Regions from separate parts of the Homo sapiens genome. Here region 1 is linked to region 2. Evidence: fine-mapped expression QTL. A gene starts in region 2. The other region holds a variant in brackets. All regions are shown on one strand. Distances are between the middles of the regions.

The links.
Region 1: its variant is fine-mapped to the expression of BET1L in cerebral cortex (GTEx, PIP above 0.99).

Annotation. Positions count from the first base shown.
Region 1 is chr11:185,932-188,843 of GRCh38, forward strand. It overlaps a transcript of SCGB1C1 not described here. Among named protein-coding and RNA genes, the nearest start is that of SCGB1C1, 5.7 kb to the right of the region's middle. The variant C/T (reference allele first, on the strand shown) is at 1,451.
Region 2 is chr11:206,004-208,898 of GRCh38, forward strand. BET1L (Bet1 golgi vesicular membrane trafficking protein like) reads right to left here and starts at 1,396. Exons shown (of 4, transcript NM_001098787.2): 1 at 1,300-1,396; 2 at 1-40. The coding sequence starts at 1,318. It overlaps RIC8A (RIC8 guanine nucleotide exchange factor A), which reads left to right and starts at 1,705. Exons shown (of 10, transcript NM_001286134.2): 1 at 1,705-2,895. The coding sequence starts at 2,852. RefSeq lists enhancers at 1-311, 622-1,123, 1,670-2,291, 2,147-2,316, 2,292-2,895 and silencers at 1,068-1,127, 1,238-1,357, 2,419-2,617, 2,618-2,895.

The DNA of each region.
Region 1 (2,912 bases), 20 kb before region 2:
AAATATTTGCCACTGGAAAAAATATTCAAAGACACTCTTAGGTTAATCTATAGCTGATGACAGTCAGTCTAGTCTACATAGCAAGCAGCTTCAAGATATGATTACTTAGCTAAGAGGGAAATGGGACGTGACTGCTGCCTCATTCCCACGCCTCTCTGGACCTGATAATTTAGAGGAAGCTCACATTCGCAAGATAAAAATTTTCTTTTCTTTCTCAGTATTAAATATGCTGTCACAGTAGAAGAAAGCTTTACTGACTTCTTAAATGATGTGTTGAGACCGGAAACCTAAAATGATAGTTACTGAGAATACTGCTAATGCCCTAAGACCGGAACCCTAAAATGATAGTTACTGAGAATAGTGCTAATGCCCTAAGACCGGAACCCTAAAATGGTAGTTACTGAGAATACTGCTAATGCCCTAAGACCGGAACCCTAAAATGATAGTTACTGAGAATAGTGCTAATGCCCTAACACCGGAACCCTAAAATGATAGTTACTGAGAATACCGCTAATGCCGTAAGACCGGAAACCTAAAATGATAGTCACTGAGAATACTGCTAATGCCCTAAGACCAGAACCCTAAAATGATAGTTACTGAGAATAGTGCTAATGCCCTAAGACCGGAACCCTAAAATGATAGTCACTGAGAATACTGCTAATGCCCTAAGACTGGAACCCTAAAATGATAGTTACTGAGAATACCGCTAATGCCCTAAGACCGGAACCCTAAAATGATAGTTACTGAGAATACCGCTAATGCCCTAAGACCGGAACCCTAAAATGATAGTTACTGAGAATAGTGCTAATGCCCTAAGACCGGAACCCTAAAATGATAGTTACTGAGAATACCGCTAATGCCCTAAGACCGGAACCCTAAAATGATAGTTACTGAGAATACCGCTAATGCCCTAAGACCGGAACCCTAAAATGATAGTTACTGAGAATACCGCTAATGTCCTAAGACCGGAACCCTAAAATGATAGTCACTGAGAATAGTGCTAATGCCCTAAGACCGGAACCCTAAAATGATAGTTACTGAGAATAGTGCTAATGCCCTAAGACCGGAAACCTAAAATGATAGTTACTGAGAATACCGCTAATGCCCTAAGGTTTTAGTCACACCCTCACCTAGGCAGGAACCCAACCAAAAGGGGAGAACTGTGGAACAAACTACGGGAGGTCATTGTTTCGGTCACCACTCCCGCACTAGGCCACACTGAGCAGGCAAAATCAGAATGGAGACACTCACGCTGAATGACACACAACGAAGCTGAAACTCTAAGGAAGTAGATAGATCCCAAAAGAGCTCCCTTTTTCCCTGAAGAGATTCCAGTCTACCTGAGTCAGCATAAAGAAGTCCCCTCTGCTTTAATTCTTACCAAAACAAGTAACTTGAAGTAATCTGATATTAACAAATCAGTTGTTATTTTCTATTGCTCTATTTCCGC[C/T]TTACACAACACAGTGTTCTGCTATTGCCCAGAGGGCACTGAGACCAAATAAAACTTGAAAATGCCACACTGAAAGCAAATAAGTCCTAATAACTCAATTTACAACGACAACAAAGAGTGACACCAATGCCCAAAGTTTTGATCAATATCTCAAAATTGAGAGGCTGACCAAAAGGGAGGAATTCTTACATCAAACAACATTTGGGCTCTGGAAGCCTCCCGAGGAGTCCTTGTAAAGAGTCGCGGCCGGGCGCCGTGGCTCACGCCTGTAATCCCAGCACTTTGGGAGGCCGAGACGGGTGGCTCATGAGGTCAGGAAATCGAGACCATCATGGCTTACAAGGTGAAACCCAGTCTCTACTAAAAAAAAAAAATACAAAAAAATTAGCCGGGCTTGGTGGCGGCAGCCTGCAGTCCCAGCTACTCGGGAGGCCGGGACAGGAGAATGGCGTGAACCTGGGAGGCGGAGCTTGCTGTGAGCTGAGATCGCGCCACTGCACTCCAGCCTGGGCGACAGAGCGAGACTCCGCCTCAAAAAAGAAAAAAGAAGAAGAACAAGAAGAATCGCAACCTAATTTAGTATAGAAACAAACTGAAAATCTGACTTGGGAATGTATCATGGTAACAAATAGCGGCGGTTCAGCCAATCACATCAGCCGAGTGTCAGTCAATGGCCGGCAGCCAGCTGTTCAAAACAAGTTCCAAGAAGGCAAATCCGGGCTGTAACCAGGTCTGTAACCAATCCAGCCACCTCTATACCTCACTTCTGTTTTCTGTATGTCACTTTTTTCCTCTGGCTATAAATATAACCCGCACATGTTGTGTGGCAGATCATTCTGAACCATTTTTGGTCTGGACTGCTGCCTGATTCTAGAACCACAAAAAAAAGCCAATTAAGATCTGCAAACCCACATTTGTTGTAATTCTGTATTTTAACAGTTGTGCCCTACAAAAGACATTAAGCTGAAATTAATTAAAAATCATTTACGGTCATGATTAGGTCATAAAAAATTGTCAAACATAACAATTCTTCAAAAAAAGCTAAAAAGTATATTTTAAAAATATTGTTGATGGAAAAAAGAGTGCAAAAGTAGATAGGAAAATTATGTACAAAACTAAAAACAGAGGAGAAATTAAAAGTCAAATAATTGCATCAAACTGGAAACCTAGAAAAAATGGGTGATTTCCTAGTAAAAATACACATTAACAAAATGGGCCCTGAAATAAGGCAACTATGAATATACCAATTAGCATAGAAAAGCTAAGAAAGGTCCTTAAAGATCTCCCAGTGGAAAAAGGCCCCAGGACCATCTGGGTCCATAGCTTAGTGTAAGCTGACTTAACTAAATGTGATTTTACACTCGTGCATTGCATACATATGATGGTGGTCCCATGACATAAAAATGGAGCTGAAAAATTCCTTCCTAGCCATCTTGTCATAAGCTCATGGCTCAACGCATTA
Region 2 (2,895 bases):
TCCCGGTCTAGAATCTCTTCCACAGCGCCCGGGCTCTGAGCTGAGAAAAGAGAGGGGCTGAAGGGTTGCATCCATCGGTGAGCACGGCCCCTGACCCCTCTCACTCCAACCACATCTGGGTGAGTCAGAAATCTAGGGGGCCCTAACCAAGGTTCCAGCAGGTGAATCTTGCACATGAGACAGGCTGCATAAAGGACGATGTGTGTAAGGGCCTGTCATGTGAACACATGTCCTGTGTACACATCAAGGTGGGGATGGGCAAGCACCCACAATGGGTTCGGTCCAACCAGCACCTTCTGAGACTGTGTAGCAAAAACTGGACCCAGCCCTGGGGTGCTAGTATGATGTGACACTTGCATCCAGGGAGGTCACCATCTGTGTATGTGGAGCCCATTCTTATAGAAAAAGAGTAAACTCTGCTAAGAGCATAGAAAAGACTTGGGAAAAGTACCCAGCAAGGCAGCAGAAAGGCTCCTGCAGAGACGACCTTTGAGCTAGGTCCTGAAGAGGTGGCAAGGAACCAGGACAGAACATTGGGAAGGCCCTTTACCGCACAGAAAATGGCTGAGCAAAGTTCCCAATTTCCCCGAGACGGGAGCTGAGGTCGACCAGGAGCGGGATCCTTGGTCTGCATCCCGCATGGGGCTTCCTGCAACACCCAGGGCAGAGTGCTCGCAGAGGCCTGGCCTGTGACAGGCTGGGCCAGGGGATAAGGAAGTTCTGTCACATCAGGTGCGTGAGAACCACCTCCTCCCTAGCTTCAGTGTCAGGAAGGGATGCCAGCGTCCTTCCAGCCACTTCATATTTATAAATTCCTTTAATCATCATAACACCTCACAGAGACAGGCATCAATATCCCACTTTGCAGACAAGAACACGGGCTCCAGGAGGGGAAATGGGGCCACCGAGGCCAAAGTAAGAGTCCTGCTTGGACACCAGCGGAGCACAGCCTCTACTCCTAGGGCCTGGCCTCGGGACCTGTCGAATGCCGACTCCCGCTCACCCCGAACCCATGCAGAACGATCTCACAGGGGGCGGCGGGGAGTGGGGAGACCCCGCTGCTGCGCGACCCCTCGCTGGAGCTGCTGGGCCGCCACGCGCGCCTTCGGTCCTAACGGCAGTGCCGGCCGAAACCCGGCCCTGCTCGGACCCGGAAGGATCCGAATCCGCCCCCCTGACAGGGTCCTCTCGGCCGAGGTCACCCCAGCTGGGCCAGAGGCAGGCGCACGCGGCTCTACAGGCAGCGGCGTCGGTTTCGGCCCGGCCCTGCCCCCAACGGCTCCGCTCTCCCGCGCTCACCCCGAGCCCAGTCCGCCATCGTGCCCTGCCCCGGCTCCTCGACGCGGACACCGACGCGGCCACAGCCGCCTCAGACGTGGCGCAGTCGCGGGGAAAGAGCTTCCGGCCCCGCCCCCAGCTAGCGATGGCCCCGCCTCCGCACCGACCACGCCCCTAGATAGCCCAGCCCCTTCCGCTTCGGGCTCGCTGACTTCCGGCTTAGGGCCGAGGGTGGGGAACTGCCGGGCGCGGAAGCGATGGGCATATCTGTGGCTTATTTTCAGCACTGTCGCGCAGACAGTGGCGCGATCTCAGCTCACTGCAGCCCCCGCCTGCCGGGCTCCCAAGGTGCTGGGATTACAGCAGCACCGCGGATGTGACGTTTGGTGTTCCTGTGAACGTGGGGCGGGGCGGGGCCGTTTGCTTGCTCAGTGCCTAGACGATGGTGGTGGAAAGACGCTTCTGTGGGTTAGGTCCTAACGGTTAGGAAGGATTCACAGGCGGGTCATGAGGAAGGAGCAGACCCCTCGGGCAGAAGCCCGCGAGGAGCACTGGGTGTGGTGGGGGCAGGGGTGCCTCCTCTGTCAAGTGGAGATCGGCGCCTCGCTCGTGCCTGCGAGTGCGCGCCGCGTCGAATACAGCCGTACAGAACGCACTACAGGAAAGTGAAGCCGGGAGAGAGACTGGGAGGCGGCGCGGGGACTGGGGGCCGTAGACGCCTTTGCTCCCGGGCACTTGTTAGAAGAGCGAGTGGATCGCGCTTCCTGTGCGTCACTGAATCCTCATGACGGCCACTGAAACGGACACGCAGGATCTTTGCTTTTCAAGAGGGAACTGAGTCCAGGCCAGACTGGGTTGCTCCCCTTTCTCTCGGCCCCTCCACCTTTGCAAGTGCTGCTCCTTCTGCCTGGAGTGGCTCCTCCAGTCTTTTCCCGGCTCACTTCCCACCGTCCGGTGTCAGCAAAAACAGCACTTCCTCACAGCCCGTTGCAGCCCAGCAGTCGCCTTTTGCTTCTTTTGAAGCACAGCCCTGTGACCGCCTCGTGTCCTTTTGTTTTTCCTTGTCCCCCTTCCCCTCTGGAACATAAGCTCCACAAAGGCAGGGACCTGGGAATCCCGTTCGCCTGCATTCCCCAGCAAACGCCTAACGAACCCAATGGCCCAGGACTGAAAATTCCTTTCCACTTCGGCTTTCCCCTCTACATCCCATCGGTTCTGTGGAGCTCGAGGGGCGTCACTGTGTGTGTGGCAGGGCACGGTGGGGGCTGAGATCGTTTCCTGTTGGAACTTCTGGCCCAAGAAGCGCGGGTCACAAGGAGAGGGGTCAGTTCGGTTCAGAGCGACTCAGCCCCTCGACTCGGGTCTTAAAACCTCCGAGCCGCCAGTTCTGCCTCAGGCCGCGCCCCCTTAAAGCGCCACCAGACGCTGCGCCCCGTTAAAGCGCCACCAGACGCCGCGCCCCGTCCCGGCCTCCCCCGCGCGCTGGCGCGGGGCTTTCTGGGCCAGGGCGGGGCCGGCGAACTGCGGCCCGGAACGGCTGAGGAAGGGCCCGTCCCGCCTTCCCCGGCGCGCCATGGAGCCCCGGGCGGTTGCAGAAGCCGTGGAGACGGGTGAGGA